Homo sapiens: one gene and its partners. The gene in region 1 interacts genetically with each later gene. Each region holds a gene or a part of one and is shown in the gene's direction. Other genes may lie near its edges.

Region 1 (4,172 bases):
TTGCTGATAAAACAGATTGCAGTAAAGAAACTGGCCAAAACCTACCAAAACCAAGATGGCAACAAGAGTGACCTCTGGTGGTCTTCAACGCTATACTCCTACCACATGCTGTGTCGACATCAGGGAGTTAACTGTATATGGTCTACAAAGCAGAGGCATGAATAATCCAACCCTTGTTTAGCTTATAATCAATAAATAACTGCCTGGGCCAAGTGGCTCGTACTTGTAATCCCAGCACTTTCAGAGGTCGAGGTGGCTGGATCACTTGAGGTCAGGAGTTCGAGACCAGGCTGGCCAATCTGGAGAAACCCCCTCTCTACTAAAAACACAAAAATTAGCTGGGCATGCTGGCAGGCACCTGTAATCCAGGAGAATCACTTGAACCCGGGAAGCGAGGTTGCAGCCTCCCACGTAGCTGGAATTAAGGCGCGGACCAGCACACCTGGGTAATTTTTGTATTTTTAGTAGAGAAGGGGTTTTGCCATGTTGACCAGGCTGGTCTCAGATTCCTGACCGCAGGTGATCCGCCCAAAGTGCTGGAATTACAAGTGTGAGACTCATCTTTTTTTTTTTTTTTTTTTGAGACGGAGTCTTGCTCTGTCTCCCCAGCTAGAGTGCAGTGGTTCGCTGGATCTCAGCTCACTGCAACCTCTGCCTTACGAGTTCAAGCGATTCTCCCGCCTCAGCCCTCCTGAGTGGCTGGGATTACAGGCGCGCGCCACCACGCCCGACTAATTTTTTTTTTTTGTATTTTTAGTAGAGACGGGGTTTCACCACATTGGTCAGGCTGGTCTCGAACTCCTGACCTCATGATCCACCCGCCTCGGCCTCCCAAAGTGCTGGGATTACAGGCGTGAGCCACCGTGCCCGGCCCAAGACTCATCTTTCTTAAGCCCTTAAAGCACTTTGCACACATTACCTCATGGTATTACCACCCTCATTCAACAGATGAGGAAAGCTAGTTTCAAGCAAGTTCACTGAGGATCAGAGACGTTAAATGATTTGCCTAAAGTTAGAGAACTAATAAGTGAGAAAGCTAGTCCTGCTGCGTTTTACTAACGTGCCAATCAGCTGCCCAGGAAGATAATGAAAACTTGAGTAAGACAGGCAGCCAAAGCCACAGCGGGGACGTTCCCAGCCTGGCTCGCTTCCGGCACTGACGCCTCCAGCCGCGACCTCTAGACTTCAGCCCTTCCATTGGTCGTCCGTCACAGTGCCACAGTGCGCCATGCTCACACGACGGCCAGCAGCCAATCAGCGCGGCTCATCTTCGCCCAGCCAGGACACGCAGGATCGCGTTATCTGTCCCTCCCGCGGGCACATTGGGAGTTGTAGTCTAATTATATATTTCCGCCCTTAGTGTGGGGAGAGCGGGAACTACTCGACCCACAGAGCCGATCGCGGAGCGGATTCTGCTTTTAGGAGTACCCGCCAACAAGCGGGACCGAGCAGGAATCCGTATCTGGGAACAGGTGAGAGAGGATGTGTGCTGGGCCTTGGAGGAAGGGGGCCGAGACCGGGCCTTACTTCTGTAACGATACTGTGAGGCATCGGAAGGCCAGCCTGTTGTGTCCGTTTTGAAGGTCGGTGGGCTAGACTGGCTGGCCTTCTAGGGGTGTGGAGACTTCCCAACTCTGCCCTTGTGCTTTCCTGGAATCCCCAATATGCCCGGACCCCGGTTTACTCCTTTGCTGCGAGCCCTTCTCTCCCGTCCAGAGTTGCTCCGAGCCTATCTGCTCAGTCCTAGCGATTCCTGTGGGGCTTGGGACGCGCGGTTCAAGCACCCCGGACCATATGGATGCAGCACCCATGGGTTCTCGCTCCAATGCTTCTTTCCTCCTTGGGGCGTAACTCAGACCCTGGGCACCCCTCTCCACTGCCCAGGGGAGACCTGGGTTCTAGATTTGGCTCTGCCTCTACTATCTTCCTACCTCCTAGAGCCTCAGTTTGGCTTGTGTAAAATAGGATGACTTAAGGGTCCTTTCAGCCCCTAATCCTGGGGTACTTTACTCTGTACCGCCTCCTTACCCAGCCTTGTGCACGCCATCTTGAAGGCACTGAGTTCTAGCCTGTTTATTGTAAGTGGTGATTAGTTGGGTCTCAGTCACCCAGCCATACTTTTTTGTTCCCTGCGTATCCTTCCTGTAATTGTCCCCAAGCACATTCCACAAGAGGGAGGGGCACTCTGGGCTAAGGCTGGGGTGGGAGTTATCTGGGGAGCTGCCACCATGCCTCTGCCTTTGGTGCTTGCCCCTGCAGGGAGTGCTTAGTGCCCCCTCCCTATGCCACTCCCAGGATGCCCCTGTCCCGCTGGTTGAGATCTGTGGGGGTCTTCCTGCTGCCAGCCCCCTACTGGGCACCCCGGGAGAGGTGGCTGGGTTCCCTACGGCGGCCCTCCCTGGTGCACGGGTACCCAGTCCTGGCCTGGCACAGTGCCCGCTGCTGGTGCCAAGCGTGGACAGAGGAACCTCGGTGAGTGTGGTTGGGGTGAGGGGCCTTGGGGAGGGGAGCAGCTGATCAGGTTTCTGACTTGTTTTTCTTCTACTTAGAGCCCTTTGCTCCTCCCTCAGAATGAACGGAGACCAGAATTCAGATGTTTATGCCCAAGAAAAGCAGGATTTCGTTCAGCACTTCTCCCAGATCGTTAGGGTGCTGACTGAGGATGAGATGGGGCACCCAGAGATAGGAGATGCTATTGCCCGGCTCAAGGAGGTGAGGGATTCATGACTTGGGGGAGTAAGGCTTTGGTTCAGTTGCTCTGTACCTGTGTGGCATTCACCTGTGGCTTATGGGGGACTTTTGACAGATGTGAGAGAAAGCTTTTTTTTTTTTTTTGAGACAGAGCCTTGCTCTGTCACCTGGGCTGGAGTGCGATGGTGTGATCTCGGCTTGCTGCAACCTCCACCTCCTGGGTTCAAGTGATTCTCCTGCCTCAGCCTTCTGAGTAGCTGGGATTACAGGTGCGTGCCACCACATCCAGCAAACTTTTGTATTTTTAATAGAGACGGGGTTTCACTGTGTTGACCAGGCTGGTCTCGAACTCCTGACCTCAGGTGATCCACCCACCTCGGCCTCCCAAAGTGCTGGGATTACAGGTGTGAGCCACCGCGCCTGGCCGAGAAAGCTTTTACCTGAGGGACTCGAGTCTGCTCTGGAGAGGTTGGGGCCTGGGCAAGTATACTTACTCAGTCCATCAACCGGACTTTTGGCTCTGATGGAAGGTGGGTCATCCAAACTGCTTTGCTTTGGGGGTGGAGGCCTTGAACCTGGCAAGTCTTAGATTTTGTGTCCTGAAATCAGAAGCTGTTAGGTTGGCAGAGACCGGGGAAGAAGGCAGTCTGATATTGTCCTATCTCCCTGGGGCCTGAGTGAAGTTATTGTATCATTAGAAACCCCTATTCTAGAACATGAACTATTGCTGTGATACTTGCCAATTTTTTTCCTGTTGATTCTGGAGTATCTATTAAAATTCTTTTTATAAATGCTGTCTATCTCATATATCTCAGGGGAATGAAGGGAAAGGGGGGCTTTGCCTATACTGGAATGGGGATTAAAAGAGTCTTGGCCCGGCATGGTGGCTCACGCCTGTAATCCCAGGACTTTGGGAGGCTGAGGTGGGGGGGATCATGAGGTCAGGAGTTCGAGACCAGCCTGGTCAACATGGTGAAACCCCCGTCTCTACTAAAAATACAAAAATTAGCTGGGCGTGGTGGCGCCCACATGTAGTCCCAGCTACTCAGGAGGCTGAGGCAGGAGAATCACTTGAACCTGGGAGGCGGAGGTTGCAGTGAGCCGTGATTGTGCCACTGCACTCCAGCCTGAGTGACATAGCGAGATGAAGTCTTCCCTGTTAGTTAGGTCTGATTGATAGCCAGGCAGCAGAAGGCAAAGTGAGATGCAAGAGGAGACACTACTGGAGGAGTGGGAGATGGATCCCACAGCGTGGGTCCCCTGTAAGCTGTCTTCTGGCTGACTTTGGAGAGGCTTTGTTTTAATATAATGAAGGAGGCTTTTCATTTGCAGGAGGGTTGAACCCTGGTAGGCAGAGGTGGCTGGAAAAGTAGGGATGGGTTGTGAAGGGGAAGTCTAGGAGAGGTGGGGATGGGGAAGGAAACTGGGGAGGGACCTGAACAAGCCAGTCATCCCTATAGCATGTACTGAGTTTTCCGTGG
Region 2 (2,683 bases), about 140 Mb from region 1:
ATTGAGTGACTGAATGTCTAAGAATCTCCAGAAAAAAACAGGCATCTATCATCCTGACCCAAGGCATATTTTAACATAACCTGGGAGAAGAGAGTTAAGTACAAGTTAAAAAAAATTCTGCCCTAGTTTTGAGAAAGCCTGGCTGGAATTCTGACTGTCTTACATACATATGTGCAAGGTTAGCCTGCAAGATTCTAGTTTTTATTTACCAGTGTGCCAGAATCTGAAACAAGCTACTGGGAGGGAAGGTATTTGTCCTTTAGTAAAATTCCCTGTATTTCAGCTGTAATCAAAGTTACCTCAAAGCAGGTGCTTTTTTTTTTTTTGAGACAGAATCTCACTCTGTTGCCCAGGCTGGAGTGCAGTGGCACGATCTTGGCTCACGGCAACCTCCACCTCACAAGCAGCTGGGACTATAGGCATGTGCCACCACGCTCAGCTAATTTTTTGTATTTTTAGTAGAGACGGGGTTTCATTGTGTTGGCCAGGCTGGTCTCGAACTCCTGGCCTCAAGTGATCTGCTGGCCTTGGCCTCCCAAAGTGCTGGGATTACAGGTGTGAGCCACCGAGCTTGGCCAAGTGCTTAAAATAGTTAATGCTAATGCCACAGTCCAATTTAAATCTTTTCTTAGTTCTCAACTTTCCTTAATCTTAAAGCAGCATTCGGTTCTGAGCAGCTACACTCAGTCTCCACTAATGGCTGCTGAGACTATGTTTCCTCTCTCAATTCTCTGATCTATTTGCTTTCTTGTCATTCCTTGTTTTTTGTGTGTATTCCTTGACTTACCTCTTCTCCTGTCTTCATTAATTAGGTTAATTTTGGGGCCCCATGGTGTTTCACGTAAAAAGATTTGGCTGGGCGTGATGGCTCATGCCTATAATCCCAGCACTTTGGGAGGCCATAGTGGAGGATCTCTTGAGCCCAGGAGTTCCAGACCAGCCTGGGCAACATAGCAAGACTCTATCTACAAAAAATAAAAAAAAATTAGCCGGGCCTGGTGGCATGTGCCTGTGGTCCTAGCTACTCAGGAGGCTGAGGTAGGAGGATCACTTGAGCCTGGGAGGTCGAGGCTGCAGTGAGCCATGAACATGCTACTGCATTCCAGCCTGGGCAACAGAGTGAGACCCTGGCTCAAAAACAAAAACAAAAACTAGTTTGTTTTAGTATTCATTAATTACGTATATGAGCACTGGTAGTCTAGTGTTTGTTCTTGTATACAGTGTTTTCTTAAATGAGATGATGCTATTTAATTCTGTTACTTGTTTTTTCAACTAATGGATCTTTTAAAGTTTTTTATTTAAATTTTTTGTGGGTACATATTAGGTACATATACTTATGGGGTACATGAGATGTTTTTATAAAGGCTCAGCTAATGTATCTTGAATATCATGTATTCATAAAGATGACTGAAATAGTTTCTGGAACAAAGTCTGATAGAAAAAATACTCAATTCCTAATTTAAGTGTTAGAGACTTTAATGTAAGCTATCTAATCTGAACTAGTTTCATTATTTGTGTGTGGGTACATGTTATGTGCTCCGTAAGGCATCTTTCAATTTGAAAATTTCATAATTGTAATTTCACTGCCTTTATAAATTGCTTTTTTTTTGGAGGCAGGGTCTCTGTCACCCAGGCTGGAGAGCAGTGGCACAGTCATAGCTCACTGCAGCCTCGAACACCTGGGCTGAAGTGATCCTCCCTCCTTAGCCTCCCAAAGTGCCGGGATTACAGGCATGAGCTACTGCACCTGGCCCATAAATTGTCATACTTTTAAAGAGCCTATTACACAAAGTATCATCAGAATCATCCCAAGACTCATTTCCTGATTCCTAATTATTTAAAATTTTGCTTTTAGGCGAGGCATGGTGGCTCAAGCCTATAATCCCAGCACTTTGGGAGGCCAAGGCAGGCAGATCATTTGAGGTCAGGAGTTTAAGACCAGCCTGGCCAACATGGTGAAACCTGAAACCCCATCTCTACCAAAAAAATAAAAAAATTTAGCCAGGTGTGGTGGTGCATGCCTGTAATCCCAGCTACTTGGGAGGCTGAGGCAGGAGAATCGAACCCAGGAGGCAAAGGCTGCAGTAAGCCGAGATCATGCCTCTGCACTCCAGTCTGGGCAACACAGTGAGACCCTGTCTCAAAAATAAATAAAATGAAAAAATTGCTTTTAAATCATGAAACCATTCTGTTTTCTTTACTTGGAATGTTTTCTTCCCTGCTTAAAATCTGGCTTGTCTCAAATCTGAACTCCTCCATAAAGTCTTCCCTATTGGTTTCAGCTACTCAGGACCTTCAACCATCCTGGCTGCTTACCACGTAACTTCCTGAGTGATATACCACACCCCTTTATTATTTCAGATATTGTGTCTCTTAGGGACTGTTTTCTGAATTACCTATTGTCCCAGACATGAAGTTGCTCCTTGACAAATAGTTCCCCAAATGGCTGTACCTTCTTCTCCAGAACCCTTAGGAACTTTGTCCTCAGTTTCCCAAATTTCTAAGACTTCGGTGACTTAGTAAAGGATTTTTTTCCTTTTTTTGAGACAGAGTCTCATTCTGTCTCCCAGGCTGGAGTGCAGTGCCTTGATCTCGACTCACTGCAGTTTCCACCTCCCGGGTTCAAGAAATCCTCCTGCCTCAGCCTTCCGAGTAGCTGGGACTCCAGGAGTGTGCTACCACA
Region 3 (3,500 bases), about 130 Mb from region 1:
TACTAAAAAAATAAAATACAAAAAATCAGCTGGGCATGGTGGTGGGTGCCTGTAGTCCCAGCTACTCTGGAGGCTGAGGCAGAAGAATGGCGTGAACATGGGAGGCGGAGCTTGCAGTGAGCCGAGATCACGCCATTGCACTCCAGCCTGGGCAACAAGAGTGAAACTCCATCTCAAAAAAAAAAAAAAAAAGAGAGAGAAAATGCTCTGCGCAGTGCTAGGGAAATAAATATTTATTAAATGTTAGCTTGCATTAATTTATTCCTCTGCTAGAATTTGAGCTCAGGAGAGCAGGAACGTTGTCTTTCTGTGACTGCTGCATCCTGTGCGTAGCACAGTGCCTGGCATACAGGGCAGACTGTAAATATTTGCTGAATTTTCTTCTATGAGTTACTTTCCAGCAGGGTGTCGGGGAAGCTCCTATTTGGGAATGTTCCCTAGGGGTGAAGGTGTCGAGGAGGATGGTGAACTGAATGTGGGAATTCCTGCAGATATTAGAATTGTTTGTACTTGGATCTTGACACTATGTGGACACCTGTTGATGGGACTCTCCTTTCTTCCTCTAGTTTAATGGACTCTCTCTTTCTCTTCTCAGCCTCTTTTCCTTTCTACATTCCTGCCCACCTTCTTATCCTTACTTCTTTTTCATGTGTCCATTCTTAGACTTTAATCACATTTGTGATCTAAATTGTATATTTTTTTCATGCAGGGGTTATGGTTTTGTGAAATTCACAGATGAACTGGAACAGAAGCGAGCCCTGACGGAGTGCCAGGGAGCAGTGGGACTGGGGTCTAAGCCTGTGCGGCTGAGCGTGGCAATCCCTAAAGCGTGAGTCCTGCAGGGAAGGTAGAGAGACTCTAGACTCCCCTCCAGACACTCCTCTTTTGTTTGCTGAGAATCAGGGCATCCATACGCTGGATGGGAGGCTGAAGGGGATCCAATTCAAGTCACAAGTACTGAATGCCTGCTGTTTGCCAGGCTGTGGGTGCTGGGGTTGAACTAGCCCCACTCCTGCAGAAACTTAGAGTTGGGGATAGAGTATGATTTGGAAAGGCTGATGTATTCAGACATTACTGGTGACAGCATTGGAAAAGCTGTTTGGCTGTCCATACCTGATGTCCCTGTTCTTTGCCCAGTAGTCCCATTGTTGGGAACTTATTCATAGAATTAATAAGATTTGAATAAAGGGGAAAAAATTACTTCCATTTTTAGCCTTATTTATATTAATGAAACTACAGCCCTCCTATGAGTGTTCCATGCTGTGGGAATGGATAAGAATTAGTATTCCAGACACTTGGCCGGGCGCAGTGGCTCACACCTGTAACCCCAGGACTTTGGGAGGCTGAGGTGGGCGGATCACCTGAGGTCAGTAGTTCGAGACCAGCCTGGCCAACATGGCAAAACCTCATCTCTACTAAAAATACAAAAATTAGCCAGTCATGGTGGTGCATGCCTGTAGTCCCAACAACTCGGGAGGCTGAGGCAGGAGAATCGCTTGAACCTGGGTGGCGGAGGTTGCAGTGAGCCGAGATGGCATCAGTGCACTCTGGCCTGGGCAACGGAGCAAGACTCCGTCTCAAATAAAAAAGAAAAATTTTCCAGACACTCTACAGAACATTATATACTTCACTATCACACCTGTCATGCTAGGTAGAAAATCTTCTTCCCTTACAACTCCAAACTTTTCTCTGAATGGGATTTTTTGTTTGTTTGTTTTTTCCCTGAGTCAGGATCTCAAAGTCACCCAGGCTGGAGATCATGTCTCACTGCAGCCTCGACCTCCCCAGGCTCGGGATCCTCCCATCTCAGCCTCCTGATTAGCTGGTACTACAGGTGCACACCACCATGCTAGGCAAATTTTGTGTTTTTTGTAGAGATAGGGTCTTGCTTTGTTGCCCAGGCTGGTTTCGAATTCCTGGGCTCAAGCAATCTGCCCACCTTGGCCTACAAAAGTGTTGGGATTACAGGCATAAGCCATTGTGCCTGGCCAGATCTTTTATCCTTTAGCCAAATTAATGATTTTCAACTGGAGTGATTTTGCCTCCCAGAGGACATTGACAACATCTGGAGACATTTTTGGTTATCACAACCAAGGATGTACTAATGGCACCTAGTGGGTATCGGCCAAGGATACTGTTAAACATCATGCAATTCATCGGACAGCCACCCACCCCTCCACGTCAATAGATCCAGGGCTGAGAAACTCTACCCTAAGAGTAGTTGAACTATTTTTTTTTTTTTTTTGAGATGGTGTCTTGCTCTTTTGCCCATGCTGGAATGCAGTGGCGTGATCTTGACTCACTTCAGCTTCCACCTCCCAGGTTCAAGCGATTCTCCTGCCTCAGCCTCCCGAGTAGCTGGGACTACAGGCATGTGCCACCAAGCCCAGCTAATTTTTGTATTTTTAGTAGAGACAGGGTTTCACATGTTGATCAGGCTGGTCTTGAACTTCTGACCTCAGGTGATCTGCCTGCCTTGGCCTCTCAAAGTGCTGGGATTACAGGCGTGAGCCACTGCGCCCAGCCAAATAGCCATGTTTTTGAAAGCAATGATTTAGGGGTTCTTTATGGTTTAACTGTGTTTAATACATTGAAGATCAGGCTTAGTGACTTCTCCCAAAAATGTTATTTGTTGTAAATAAATTATTATATAAAAACATTAAATTAGCTGGGCTTGGTGTACTCCTCTAGTCCCAGCTGCTCTGGTGGCTGAAGTGGGAGAATTGATTGAGCCTAGGAGTTCAAGGTTACAATGAGCTATGATAACTCCACTGCACTCTAGCCCAGGCAACAGAGTGAGACCGTGTCTCTTAAAAAACAAAATAGGCTGGGCGTGGTGGCTCATGCCTGTAATCCCAGCACTTTGGGAGGCCGAGGTGGGTGGATCACAAGGTCAGGAGATCGAGACCATCCTTGCTAACATGGTGAAACCCCGTCTCTACTAAAAATACAAAAAATTAGCCAGGTGTGGTGGCGGGCACCTGTAATCCCAGCTACTCAGAGAGGCTGAGACCGGAGAATGGCATGAACCCAGGAGGCAGAGCTTGCAGTGAGCCAAGATTGTGCCACTGCACTCCAGCCTGGGTGACAGTGTGAGACTCCATCTCAAAAAAAAAAAAAGGCCAGGTGCAGTGGCTCACGCCTGTAATCCCAGCACTTTGGGAGGCCGAGGCGGGCAGATCACAAGGTCAGGAGATTGAGACCATCCTGGCTAACATGGTGAAACCCCGTCTCTACTAAAAATACCAAAAAAAAAAAAAAAAAAAATTAGCCGGGCGTGCTGGTGGGCGCCTATAGTCCCAGCTACTCGGGAGACTGAGGCAGGAGAATGGCATGAACCCAGGAGGCGGAGGTTGCAGTGAGCCGAGATCGCGCCACTGCACTCCAGCCTGGGCGACAGAGCAAGACTCTCTCAAAACAACAACAAAAAAAACGAAAACAAAAGGCGGGGTGCTGTGGCTCACGCCTGTAATCCCAACACTTTGGGAGGCTGAGTTGGG
Region 4 (3,500 bases), on another chromosome or scaffold:
AAAAAAATTAATGTTTGTAGTAAATAATAAATGATAAAATATATTTTTCTTTATTGAAAAGGTATATTTTAGTGAAAATATACTTGGATGTTTATTTCTTCATTTTGATTTTATATTTTCAGTTATTAGCACTCTATACTTAATGTCTATAACCATACCACTATTTTACTAGGTAAGAAATTCTACATAAATGAGCATGACTTATTTTCCTACACAAAGGAATTTATTTTCTGAAGCAAAAGAATGACTCATTAGAAAATAATTTTCATATTAATGTCTTATAACTATTAAAAGAAATAGGCTCATGAAACCTAGGTAAACCTTGGTTGCATCTGTGGCTATTATATGTCATATTTATAAGAACCCACCTGAAAGACCAACCATTTATACCTGTGGTTAATCAAATGGTTGCTTTTAATACATTTCAATCATGTCAAACTCATTTGTATTTGGTTTGCATTTGCCTCTTAATCTCTCTAAGCGTAGACAAATCACTTCTTGGCAGCTCATAATCAGATAAATTGACAATCAGATGAGATAGTCCAATTGTTATTGCTTTAACTGTGTGCACCGATGGCTGGCAAATCTCCTGGTCCCTTTCCAAACTGTGACTGGAGATTCAATGAGTTTCCCAACCCAGCTGCCCATGCTCTCCATGTTACTTGTGTGGAGCTCATGGCCTTGGCAGTTTCAGGCAAAGAAGTTGGGAATGCCCTTCTAAATGTTGTCCTAAAAAGGTATGTATTCTGGTTCATGCAGTAAGATTTGTTGTTTATTTGTAAATAGAATGGTATTCTATTTCAAACTTTTAAGACAAACCTGTTGCCGCAAGGCTGATGCACATTGGATGATGACTGTTTTCTGGTTCCAGATCTTGTCTTTGTGATATAGGAGTTATGGAATGAGCCCTGGACAGGATCCTAAGATCCGGGTTTGTTCCTACTTCTACTCATTAATAGCAGTTTGACATTTAATATAGGAATAATGTTAACTTGTCACTTAAAACAAGATTCTCTTCATCTTGTTTTCAAGATTTCAAGATTCTTTTAAAAATTAGCATGAAGTATGGGATAATGATTGGGGAGGAAGTATTTTTAAAAAGCCTTCTTGAGTTTTTATGCATATTACATTTTTATTCAATAAAAAATTCCCCATTGTTTTATTGAAATGGATTAGTTGTCGATCCTCTGAATTAGACATATTCTTTAAAAATAAGATCCGTTGTCAGCCATCTAAAATGTTTTTATAAATTCATACTTACATTCTTTTTTGCCGGTTGCAGTCAGCCTTTAGTGCCAAGAGAGAACATTACAGCATGGATGAATGCAATTGGTTTGATCATCACTGCCCTACCAGTGAGTTAATAATTGTGATTTGTACTTAGTGATGAAATACAGCCAGCTGTTCCATGTCAGCAAAAAGAAAAAGATGCATATAGGATGCCCTTGTACGGGACGTCATGCAAATTAATGAAGTATTTTATGTTTTTAAAGTTTTTTCATATTATTACTGCTTTAAAAATCTACAGTGACTAGTTTTTGCTTTTCTGTATTAGATCTAAATATATCTATGTGACTTACGGGTCTCTGCATTTTCTGGTACCACCTTACCTATCCAACTTTAGTTTTTACATAATAGCTTGATCTACTCTTGGCCACTTAACGTGTTGTATATCTACAGCCTTTGTTCCTTCAGATAGTGCTTAAGACATGTTTTAGGTACTTCTGAATGTGAGGGAATAAGACATTTTTCTTATTCCAGAAGCTTCTTCTTTCCATCACCTTCTCTAAAGCCTATTCATTCTTTGCTAGCTTAGAGCCTCCTTTCTCAGTGAATGAAGCCTTCCCTGACTTTTCCAGCTCACATGAAGACTCCTTTCTCTGACCTCCACACATATTTTTTTAAAGTTTATTATTTTTAAATAAGTAATAAAGCTATAGATTTATTGTTTGATAAATTAATTGATTTACTGCATAGTGTATATCAGGTACCTAAATGAGCTGGACAGATACATGTATGGAGCCCCTTAACTCACAGTTACTTCTCCCAGGTTGTTACTGACTTAATTTGACCAGTTACAAAGCCACCCAGCTGTATTGTGCAGAAGCTGGAAAAATAGAAAACTTTAAAGAATGAGAAAACACTATTACTTTAGACTTTGGGGTGGAATGCTGGATAAGTGATATTTTTCACTAGCTTTCCTCCGATTTTAAAGGAGCCATATTGGATTGTTCTTCATGATCGAATTGTGAGTGTCATCAGCAGCCCCAGCTTGACGTCTGAAACAGAGTGGGTTGGCTATCCATTCCGCCTCTTTGATTTCACTGCCTGTCATCAGTCCTACTCTGAGATGAGTTGTAGCTATACGTTAGCTCTTGCACATGCTGTGTGGCACCATTCTAGCATCGGACAACTTTCTCTCATTCCAAAGTAAGTATAATAATTTCTTAAAGAAATTTGACGTAGGCTGGGTGCGGTGGTTCATGCCTGTAATCCCAGCACTTTGGGAGGCCGAGGTGGGCAGATCACAAGGTCAGGCGATTGAGACCATCCTGGCCAACATTGTGAAACCCCATCTCTACTAAAAATACAAAAATTAGCTGGGCATGTGGTGTGTGCCTGTAACCCCAGCTACTCGGGAGGCTAAGGCAGGAGAATCACTTGAACCAGGGAGCTGGAAATTGCAGTGAACCAAGATCGCGCCACTGCACTCCAGCCTGGTGACAGAGTGAGACTCCATCTGAAAAAAAAAAAAAAATTGTATTTCATTTTGTTCTAATCTCATTAACAGATGAGGTATATACTTCATTCATTAGAACAACTTGCGGCTGGGCGCGGTGACTCATGCCTGTAATCCCAGCAATTTGGGAGGCCGAGATGGGTGGATCACAAGGTCAGGAGATTGAGACCATCCTGGCCAACATGGTGAAACCCCGTCTCTACTAAAAATAAAAGAATTAGCCAGGCGTGGTGGTGTGCACCTGTAATCCCAGCTAGTCAGCAGGAGAATCACTTGAACCCAGGAGGCGGAGGTTGCAGTGAGCCAAGATCACGCCACTGCACTCCAGCCCAGGCAACAGTGTGAGACTCCGTCTCAAAAAAATAAATAAATAAAAATAATCAAGTGAAAGTAATAGCCAGTGAGAGATGTGAGATTAATTAGAAATATTATTGTTACCAAATTAAAAGGAACTTTAAAAAATTATATTTTATTGTAATACTTTGTATATACTGTATGAACAAAATTCAAACAATTTAAATAATTTCAAGTCACAGGAGATTTTTATCTTCAAATTTTAGGTTTCTTACTGAAGTACTTCTTCCTATAGTGAAGACCGAATTCCAGTTGCTTTATGTATACCATCTTGTTGGACCATTTTTACAAAGATTTCAGCAAGAGAGAACTCGTTGTATGATAGAGGTAAAATATAATCTGGGTTTCCTGTGACATGATTAAATTCTGAAGTATCTATTTAAGTTTCTTTACCAGTGTTATTGAA
Region 5 (3,500 bases), on another chromosome or scaffold:
CCGCCCACCTCGGCCTCCCAAAGTGCTGGGATTACAGGCATACAGGCATGAGCCACTGCGCCCGGCCTTTTTTTTTTAAACTGATGGGGTCTTGCTATGTTGTCCGGGTTGGTCCTGAACTCCTGGGCTCAAGCAGTCCTCCCACCTTGGCCCCCCAAAGTGCTGGGATTACAGGTGTGAGCCACTGCACTTGGCCCGATGCGCTCTTTTTTTCCTTTTCTTTTTCTTTTTTTTTTTTTTTTTTGAGGTGGAATCTTGCTCTCACCCAGGCTGGAGTACAGTGGAGTACAGTGATGTGATCTCGGCTCACTGCAACCTCCACCTGCTGGGTTCTAGCGATTCTCCTGCCTCAGCCTCTCAAGTAGCTGGGATTACTGGCACATGCCACCACACCTGGCTAATTTTTGTATTATTAGTAGAGACGGTGTTTCACCTGTTGCCCAGATTGGTCTCAAACTCCTGGCCTGAAGTGATCCGCCCTTCTCAGCCTCCCAGAGTACTGGGATTTCAGGCGTGAGCTATTGCGCCCAGCCTCGATGCACTCTTAAAATATTTTATTTTCATGAAATTTCAGTTTGAAGGAACAGAATCAAATTGCCCAGTCTGCCATCTTGATTTAGTTTTCTATTTAAACTTTTATTGTATATGTTATATTTTTAATTTCTAAGAACTTTATTTTTTGGTATCTTTTTTTTGAGATGGAGTCTTGCTCTGTCACCCAGGCTAGAGTGCAGTGGCGCGATCTCAGCTCACTGCAACCTCCACCTCCCAAGTAGAAGTGATTCTCCTGCCTCAGCCTCCCCAGTAGCTGGGATTACAGGCGGGTGCCACCACGCCTGGCTAATTTTTGTAGTTTTAGGAGAGACAGGGTTTTACCATGTTAGCCAGGCTGGTCATGAACTCCTGACCTCAGGTGATCTGCCCACCTTGGCCTCCCAAAGTGCTAGAATTACAGGAGTGAGCCACCGTTCCTGGCCGATACCCAGTTTTTAAATTATTTAAAAAAAATTTTTTATAGCAGCCTGAAGCTGTAGTATCCCTTTGAGCTCACCAACAGTACTAATTACTGAACTTATTAAAATGTCTGTTATTTCCCATCACATCCTTCCGGTTTCTTTGCCTGCTTAGCTCCATGCCACTCTTGGACTATTAATAGTAATATATCTGGCCGGGCACGATGGCTCACACGTGTAATCCCAGCTCTTTGGGAGGCCGAGGCAGGCAGATCACCTGAGATTGGAAGTTCGAGACTAGCCTGACTAACGTGGAGAAACCTGGTCTCTACTAAAAAAAAAAAAAATATATATATATATATATATATATATATATATATAAAATTAGCTGGGCATGGTGGTGCATGTTTGTAATCCCAGCTACTCAGGAGGCTGAGGCAGGAGAATCACTTGAACCTGGGAGGCGGAAGTTGCATTAAGCCGAGATCGCGCCATTGCACTCCAGCCTGGCAACAAGAGCGAAACTCTGCCTCAAGAAAAAATATAGTAATATATCTGGATTTCATTTTTTTACATTTGCAAATGAATTCCAGCCTGGATTAATGTTAGCCCAGGTATTAATAGTGGTAGCAATTGCTTTTATTATTGTCAGTTTCCCTTAGCACACTTACCTTCCCGGTGAAGCCCAAAATCAAACAAATCTTTCTCCCTCTGTAGCCTGCTTGGCCTGGGCAGTTTGCTTCTAGCCCTTCCACCTACCAGTATTCATTGTACGGAGAAGCTATTTTACAGAGGACGGCTTTAGTGTCTCTTGAGGGATTTAGTTCTGTATTCTCAGGGGAATCCGTAGAGTACTCCTTTAGAATTCATTCCTCTTAGCAGACTCAACACTACATTGTAGTCACAAGATAAAGGTTTGTGTCTCAGCTTCTTGTCTTCTGACATTTGTTGTTTCTGTTGGATCTTGCTAGTGTTTTCTAAACTTTAGTAGAAGCAGGAGCTTGGAGCTTTTCTTAATTTCAGTGTAATTTGTATATTTGCCTTGGTTCTTAATTATTTTTTTGTTTAGTATTAGAGAAATGGTAAATAGGTACATATACTGCCAGAAATACATTTTTTTCCCTCATTATATAAATGTTATTCTAATCAGAAAATTTGGGAAGGCAGTGATGTTGATTCTAGACAACTGTGAAAGGCACTATCGTTAACTGGAGAAATTAATGTGTTGGTCTTGTCAGGAGATTGCTTGCTTGATAAGAATAGCCTCAGGGAGGGACACCAGCTGCTGATACAATGATGGCACCACAGATTAACATGCCTGTGCCCTTACTCTTGCCAAATCAGGTTGCAGAAGAACGCGGAGTCTTATATAATACAAGGAGATGTCTTTTCAGCAAGCCTAGCTAGCCTAGCCTTTAGCTGATTAGAAAAGAAGGTTGAGGCCGGGCGCGGTGGCTCACGCCTGTAATCCCAGCACTTTGGGAGGCCGAGGCGGGCGGATCACGAGGTCAGGAGATCGAGACCATCCTGGCTAACACGGTGAAACCCCGTCTCTACTAAAAAAAAAATACAAAAAATTAGCCGGGCGAGGTGGCGGGCGCCTGTAGTCCCAGCTACTCGGGAGGCTGAGGCAGGAGAATGGCGTGAACCCCAGGGGGCGGAGCCTGCAGTGAGCCGAGATTGCGCCACTGCACTCCAGCCTGGGCGACAGCAAGACTCCGTCTCAAAAAAAAAAAAAAAAAAAAAAAAAAAAAAAAAAGAAGGTTGAAAAACCAGGTTCCTAAAAAGGTCATGATTTTCCTGATCCATTTTGCCATCTGGACGGGAATTTTTAAGTCATTTTTTATTGGATATCTGGTAAACGAGATTTTAGATTGTATGGCGTATAAAATTACAGCACGTTTCCGATTTCTGCCTGTTATTTCTCCTCCAAAGATTTTTTTGAATAAACAACCAAACCCAAGAAAGAAGCTTCTTGTGCCTTGTGCACTGGATCCTCCCAACCCCAATTGTTATGTATGTGCCAGCAAGCCAGAGGTGACTGTGCGGCTGAATGTCCATAAAGTGACTGTTCTCACCTTACAAGACAAGGTCAGTGCAAGGCCTGGGTCTCTTTTCCTTTTGCTTTTACAGTATTACTGTGATGACAAACAAACACTAGCTGCTGATTCTGAAAAGGTCCAACTGCAGAGATGTGTGGCTGTGATTTCCTGGGTTATTTTGCCTTCTGGATTCCTGCAGGCTTTTCTGTCTGTGGTTCCAGAATAAGTGCCTCACATTCCCAGAATGGAGTAGGAGTATTTGACTGGAATCTGCAGCACAGTGGTGGCACAGTATCACAGCAAGCAGAGGACTTCTTTGCTCTTTGCTTCCCAGGCAGTGGGTAAATTCTGTATTTTTTGACAAATAACAGGTATCCTTGAATGGTCCTCACTGTGGCAGTGAGCAGATAAGTATTTGCATGCAGTGCAAAGTTTGCATTTCCAGTAGAGCAAAGCCCCAGTTACCAGCTTTGTATTAAAGGGTATAAGTAACTTGCAGAGTTTT
Region 6 (2,335 bases), on another chromosome or scaffold:
AAGGCATTAAATTTATGTTTGTCTCCTTTTTCTGTTTAATTTTAAAGATATTTAAAATGATATAACTAAAAATGTTTAGCTGGTGTATATGTTTTGAATACCTTTTTCCCCTCAGTTTAGTATATTGACTTTGTACTGTAAATTTTTCTGCTTTTCTTGGATAATCTCAGGATTTTCATGAGGATAGGGGGAACTCAACTTTATTTATGAGACAAAATTTCCATACAAAGCTCAATCTCCTTTATACACCCACAGACATAATATTAGTTTTTAAAAAGCCAATTTCTTCATAGTTTTTTCCCATTAAATTCTCAAGGAACACTTGGATCTTTAAGCACGGAACATAATCATGATGTTAAAAACAGAGAAAATAAGGCTTTATAAAGTTAATGATTATCATCAGTATGAATTTAAGGTTTGTTTTAATTTCAAGATTTGATTTTTTATACGTGTAATTCTATTATCTACCCAAGCAGATCTGTAGTGGTTCCAATTAGACTTCTCAAACAGCAAATTTATCCTGATTTTATTTGAAAAGCCTCTTGGATTGATAGTATAGTAGCTCAGGCATTGGAAACTTTCTGCAAACTGTTTTGGGTTTGCAGGCCAGATGGTCTCTGTGGCAGCTACTCAGCTCTGCAATTTCAGTGTGAAAGAAGCCATAGACAGTACTTGAATGAAGGACTGTGGCTGGATTGGCCTTTTAGTTTGACCCCCTACATTAGGCCCCAAATTTTCTTACCCTGAGGTGCTGATATCTGTATGGATGAGTTATTTGTCACTAAAGTTATGAGTTGTGCCTAAAAGTTAAAACTGTTGACTGTATTATGTAATGATCAGTATTTCAGTTGGGAAGATATTTTAGAGTCTAGATAATTATGTTTGTATATTGAAAAAATGGTGGCCAGTTTTTAAGTTCCTTAATAGAAGAGAATTATGTCTCAGCACATATAACAGTAATGCTAATTTATTGAAACTACTGCTGTTAGAGCACTTCTTATTCATTGTCTTTTAGTGAAATTTATGGCGTAACACTTTGTCAGAGAGGAGGCTATATAATTCGGAGCGGAAATTGTCTATAAGTAGGCATTTATTTCATGATTGATATGTCACAGAAATCATGGTAGTAAATCACATTGCTATTTGAATACCCTGTTTTTGTAAGTTTTTAAAACTCATATTCTGAAAAGATTTCATTCTCTTAGTGTTAGCTTGGGAGTTAGATTGCCATGATTAAACTATTATTTATCCTTGTGTAATATTAGTTTTTAACTTTAACATCTGTTTCTTTTTAATCTATAATGAGCTAGTTTTATGGAAAATGGAATTTCTTACTATATAAAGAATACAGAGACTCATTGTATTAGAGAATCAAGTCAGCCAGCTAAAGTATCCTACTGTTAAATCCTTAAACCTAATTTTGGAAAAGAGAAAGTTAATCAATGTATTTACCTTACATGTTGGAAAGAACTATGTTAGGTCTGATTCATGTGAAGAAGATGTTGCAAAGGATTTATTTCACAAATTTTAAAGGAGATATGAGTAAAAGTTTTTATCTTTTCTTGACTTTTTCTCCTGAACACTTATGTCTTAGCAAGTGGTCAACATGAGGATTTGAACGCCTAATTGTTGGTAAATGGTTGAGGCATGACAAAAATATTAATATCCACTGTTTACCATCATGTTATTTGAAACAAAAGTGACCATGTATACTATCTTGCTTGAAGAAGTCTTTGACAGAAAAAGCAATATCATGTCATTTATAAATTTTCTTGTTCTAAAGAAAGCAGTTATATATATATATAAATTATGTAAATAAAAGTTATTTTATATCATTTCTGTTGTGTCCTTTTAAGATGACTAAATAAAGAATTGGCTGGGTATCGTGGCTTACACCTGTAATCCCAGCACTTTCGGAGGCCGAGGTGGGAGGATTGCTTGAGCCCAGGAGTTCAAGACCAGCCTGGGCAACATAATGAGACCTCATCTCTACAAAAAAATTAAAAATCAGCCAACTGTGGTGGTGTGTGCTTTTGGTCCCAGTTACTCAGGAGGCTGGGATGAGAGGTTCGCTTGAGCCCAGGAGGAGGTTGAGGCTGCAGTGAGCTGTGATTGCCCCACCACACTCCAGCCTGGATGACAGAAGAAGACCCTGTCTTTGTGGGGAGGAGACAAATTTTTGACAGGTGTGCATGTCGTTATTTCAAAGCTGTAGGAGTCTGCAATGTGATTGTCCTAATAGTATTTGGAAGAGACTCCACACAGCATCTCTGTTTGCTGCAGCATCGCATCCTGAATCTGCTGGAGAGCCCTGTCTTACATTGGGTTTCACTAA
Region 7 (3,500 bases), on another chromosome or scaffold:
TGAGGAGCAATGGAGCCTACATGTGCTAGAGATTGTCTCCCTTATGTTTCGTGACCAGGTGAGACCCTGGCCTATTGCCCGAGTCCCCTCCGCCCATGTACTTTTCTGCTGTACAGCCAGAATTGCTCTTGTGATAATGGCTGCATTATCTGGGGAAGGCAGGCGACAGCAGGAGTAGCCATGTCTTGAGTTCAGTAGTACCCCCTTATTCATGGTTTTCTTTCCTTGATTTCAGTTACTCACAGTCAACCATGGTCTGAAAATATTAAGTGGAAAATTTCAGAAATAAACATTTTAGAAGTTTTAAACTTGTACATTGTTCTGAGTAGTGTGATGAAATCTTTTGTCCCTGTTTGTCCTAAACAAGATGTGAATCATCCCTCTGCCCAGCATATCCACAGTGTATACCCGCCTGTTAGTCATGTACTAGCCATCTTAGTTATCAAATTGAAAAAACATAATAGAATATGTGTATGTGCGTATATATATATGTATACATGTTCTGTTTTCTGATAACTATATATATAGCACATATATACATTCTATAAAACATAGAACGTACATGTTCTATGTATATGTGTATACACATACAAATATATATATGTATATATGAATATATACATATATATATTTCAGTACTGTCTGCAGTTTCAGGCATCCAGTGGGTGTCTTAGAACATTTCCCCCTCAGATAAGGGAGAACGACAGCACAATGCCCCATTAATGGGGTTCTATTTTGTTCACTCTTTGCATCCCCAGTAGGCGTGAACTCAGGATAAGGAATGACTGTCCTCCTGATTCTTCCCTCTTTGTTCCAATCTAGAACCCCGAGCAGCTGGCGGGAGTAGGGCAGGGACGCTTAGCTCAGGAGCGGAGTGCAGATTTTGCAGAACTGGAGGTGTTGCGCCAGCGAGAGATGGCAGAAAAGAAGACTCGAGCCCTCCAGCGAGGCAACAGGTGAGTGACAGAGAGGCAGGTTCTTTTTCCTACATCATGGAATGCTGAGGGCATAGAAGGCAAATTCTAAGGTGGGGTGATTGAACAACATTTTAGTGTTTTTTTTTTTTTTTTTTGAGACAGAATTTTGCTCTTGTCGCCCAGGCTGGAGTGCACTGGCACGATCTCTGCTCACTGCAACCTCTGTCTCCTGGGTTCAAGCGATTCTCCTGCCTCAGCCTCCCCAGTAGCTGGGACTACAGGCGCATGCCACCATGCCAGGCTAATTTTTGTATTTTTAGTAGAGACAGGGTTTCACCATGTTGGCCAGGCTGGTCTCAAACTCCCGACCTCAGGTGATCCGCCTGCCTCAGCCTCCCAAAGTGCTGGGATTATAGGCGTGAGCCACCGTGCCCGACCAACATTTTGTAGTTTTAACTTGCTCCAATGTGCCGATGATAGAGAATGGAGATAAAGTTTCCAGAGAACTGAAAAATCACCTTGGACCTTTTTGTTTCTGCAGGCATTCTCGATTTGGGGGCTCCTATATTGTCCAGGGGTTGAAATCCATTGGGGAGAGGGACCTCATCTTTCACAAAGGCCTTCACAACGTGAGTATTCTTACATCTGGAGTGGGAACATAGTGGAGTTGCATAGCTTAAGCAGGGTAATCATCTTAAGAGTTCTTGGCTGTGCCTGGTGGCTCACACTTGTGGTCCCAGCACTTTGGGAGGCTGAGGCAGGAGGATTGCTTGAGCCCAGAAGTTCAAGATCAGACTGGGCAACATGGCAAGACCCTGTCTCTAAAAAAAAAATTAAATTAAAGGTTGGGTACAATGGCTCATGCCTGTAATCTTAACACTTTGAGAAGCTAAGGAAGGAGAATTGCTTGAGCCCAGGAGTTCGAGACCAGCCTGGGCAACATGGCAAAACCCTGTCCCTACAACAAGTGAAAAATACTAACTGAGCATGGTGGCACCCGCCTGTGGTCCTGACTACTCGGGAGGCTGAGGTGGGAGGATTCCTTGAGCCCAGGAGTTCAAGGCTCCAGTGTGCTATGATTGCATCATTACACTCCAGCCTGGGTGACAGAGCAAGTTCTTGTCTCAAAAGAAAAACAAAAATTAGTTTCTTCTGAGAAAATTGACGAGAGCTGCAAGGGGAAAGTGGTATTTAGGAGTAATTCTAATCCCCCAACCGACACACCCAGCTACGAAACTACAGTTCAGATTTGGGAAAGCAGCCGAAAAAGGTGCCTAAACGTCGCCAGGCCGCCCGAGAGCTGTCCATTCAGCGCCGTTCTGCCCTCAATGTGAGGCTCTTCCTCAGAGACTTCTGCTCTGAGTTCCTGGAGAACTGTTACAACCGGCTCATGGGATCAGTAAAGGTGAGAACCTGTGAAGGATATGGAGATAATCAGGAATGGAATAGACAGGTGATGATGCAGCTGTTGGTGGGTAAGAAGTGGGGAGGAGCTCGGGGAGGCTGCCCCTGGAATGTGGACTCGTAGGTGGGAAGGATATACAGTTAGGATGTCCCTGAGAGATAGTGAAAATGCCAGGAACGAGTGGGCTCCTGGCATGACAAAAGAGGCTCTGGAAAAATTGCCTCAGAGGGAGAGGAAAGGGAGAACAGGAGAGAGTTGGAAATTGTGGATCCTAGAGTATTATAGCGGTGTCCCGGCGTGGTGGCTCACACCTGTAATCCCAGCGCTTTGAGAGGCTGAGGCAGTGGATCACTTGAGGTCAGGAGTTCAAGACCAACCTGGCCAATATGGTGAAACCGTATCTCTACTAAAAAAAAAAATACAAAAAAAAAAAAAAATTAGCCGGCATGGTGGTGTGCATTTGTAGTCCCAGTTACTCAGGAGCCTGAGGCAGGATAATCACTTGAACCTGGGAGGCAGAGGTTGCAGTGAGCCGAGATCAGACCAGTGCACTCCAGCCTCATCATGACAGTGCAAGACTGTCAAAAAAAAAAAAAAAAAAAAAAAAGACCAGGCGCAGTGGCTCACGCCTGTAATACCAGCACTTTGGGAGTCCAAGGCAGGTGGATCACCTGAGGTCAGGAGTTTGAGACCAGCCTGCAACATGGTGAAACCCCATCTCTACTGAAAATACAAAAAATTAACTGGGCGTGGTGGCGGGCACCTATAATCCCAGCTACCCAGGAGGCTGAGGCAGGAGAATCGCTTGAACCCAGGAGGTGGAAGTTGCGGTGAGCCGAGATCATGCCATTGCACTCCAGCCTGGGCAATAGAGTGAGACTCCGCCTCAAAAAAAAAAAAATTATGACGGTGTCCAGCATCCATTCCATCATCATAGGACAGGAAGGAAGAAGTTGGAAGCCCTGGAGTCATGGTGATCTTTTTTTTTCTTTTTTAAATGTCAGGATCACCTGCTTCGGGAGAAAGCTCAGCAGCATGATGAGACCTATTATATGTGGGCCTTGGCTTTCTTCATGGCCTTCAACCGAGCTGCCTCCTTCCGGCCAGGCCTGGTTTCTGAGACCCTCAGTGTCCGTACCTTCCACTTCATTGAGCAGAACCTCACCAACTACTATGAG

Evidence for each region.
Region 2: changes in FDPS (region 1) and EMC1 together harm fitness more than expected from each alone (negative genetic interaction), as found in Homo sapiens cells (one large-scale study listed by BioGRID).
Region 3: changes in FDPS (region 1) and TRNAU1AP together harm fitness more than expected from each alone (negative genetic interaction), as found in Homo sapiens cells (one large-scale study listed by BioGRID).
Region 4: changes in FDPS (region 1) and MED23 together harm fitness more than expected from each alone (negative genetic interaction), as found in Homo sapiens cells (one large-scale study listed by BioGRID).
Region 5: changes in FDPS (region 1) and UBA2 together harm fitness more than expected from each alone (negative genetic interaction), as found in Homo sapiens cells (one large-scale study listed by BioGRID).
Region 6: changes in FDPS (region 1) and BDP1 together harm fitness more than expected from each alone (negative genetic interaction), as found in Homo sapiens cells (one large-scale study listed by BioGRID).
Region 7: changes in FDPS (region 1) and TIMELESS together harm fitness more than expected from each alone (negative genetic interaction), as found in Homo sapiens cells (one large-scale study listed by BioGRID).

What each region holds. Positions count from the first base shown.
Region 1 is NC_000001.11:155,307,494-155,311,665, forward strand, and holds the start of FDPS (farnesyl pyrophosphate synthase), read left to right. Parts: upstream 1-1,372; 5' UTR 1,373-1,472; exon of another isoform or gene 1,473-1,583; intron 1,584-2,295; 5' UTR 2,296-2,296; coding exon 2,297-2,472; intron 2,473-2,549; coding exon 2,550-2,712; intron 2,713-4,172. UniProt on the Homo sapiens protein: Key enzyme in isoprenoid biosynthesis which catalyzes the formation of farnesyl diphosphate (FPP), a precursor for several classes of essential metabolites including sterols, dolichols, carotenoids, and ubiquinones.
Region 2 is NC_000001.11:19,215,160-19,217,842, reverse strand, and holds the end of EMC1 (ER membrane protein complex subunit 1 isoform 1 precursor), read left to right. Parts: 3' UTR 1-2,183; downstream 2,184-2,683. UniProt on the Homo sapiens protein: Part of the endoplasmic reticulum membrane protein complex (EMC) that enables the energy-independent insertion into endoplasmic reticulum membranes of newly synthesized membrane proteins.
Region 3 is NC_000001.11:28,566,585-28,570,084, forward strand, and holds part of TRNAU1AP (tRNA selenocysteine 1-associated protein 1), read left to right. Parts: intron 1-709; coding exon 710-829; intron 830-3,500. UniProt on the Homo sapiens protein: Involved in the early steps of selenocysteine biosynthesis and tRNA(Sec) charging to the later steps resulting in the cotranslational incorporation of selenocysteine into selenoproteins. Stabilizes the SECISBP2, EEFSEC and tRNA(Sec) complex.
Region 4 is NC_000006.12:131,590,243-131,593,742, reverse strand, and holds part of MED23 (mediator of RNA polymerase II transcription subunit 23), read left to right. Parts: intron 1-571; coding exon 572-737; intron 738-1,282; coding exon 1,283-1,355; intron 1,356-2,215; coding exon 2,216-2,430; intron 2,431-3,300; coding exon 3,301-3,421; intron 3,422-3,500. UniProt on the Homo sapiens protein: Required for transcriptional activation subsequent to the assembly of the pre-initiation complex. Component of the Mediator complex, a coactivator involved in the regulated transcription of nearly all RNA polymerase II-dependent genes.
Region 5 is NC_000019.10:34,455,881-34,459,380, forward strand, and holds part of UBA2 (SUMO-activating enzyme subunit 2), read left to right. Parts: intron 1-2,888; coding exon 2,889-3,044; intron 3,045-3,500. UniProt on the Homo sapiens protein: The heterodimer acts as an E1 ligase for SUMO1, SUMO2, SUMO3, and probably SUMO4. It mediates ATP-dependent activation of SUMO proteins followed by formation of a thioester bond between a SUMO protein and a conserved active site cysteine residue on UBA2/SAE2.
Region 6 is NC_000005.10:71,565,986-71,568,320, forward strand, and holds the end of BDP1 (transcription factor TFIIIB component B'' homolog), read left to right. Parts: 3' UTR 1-1,835; downstream 1,836-2,335. UniProt on the Homo sapiens protein: General activator of RNA polymerase III transcription. Requires for transcription from all three types of polymerase III promoters. Requires for transcription of genes with internal promoter elements and with promoter elements upstream of the initiation site.
Region 7 is NC_000012.12:56,428,927-56,432,426, reverse strand, and holds part of TIMELESS (protein timeless homolog), read left to right. Parts: coding exon 1-58; intron 59-822; coding exon 823-956; intron 957-1,458; coding exon 1,459-1,546; intron 1,547-2,145; coding exon 2,146-2,322; intron 2,323-3,326; coding exon 3,327-3,500. UniProt on the Homo sapiens protein: Plays an important role in the control of DNA replication, maintenance of replication fork stability, maintenance of genome stability throughout normal DNA replication, DNA repair and in the regulation of the circadian clock.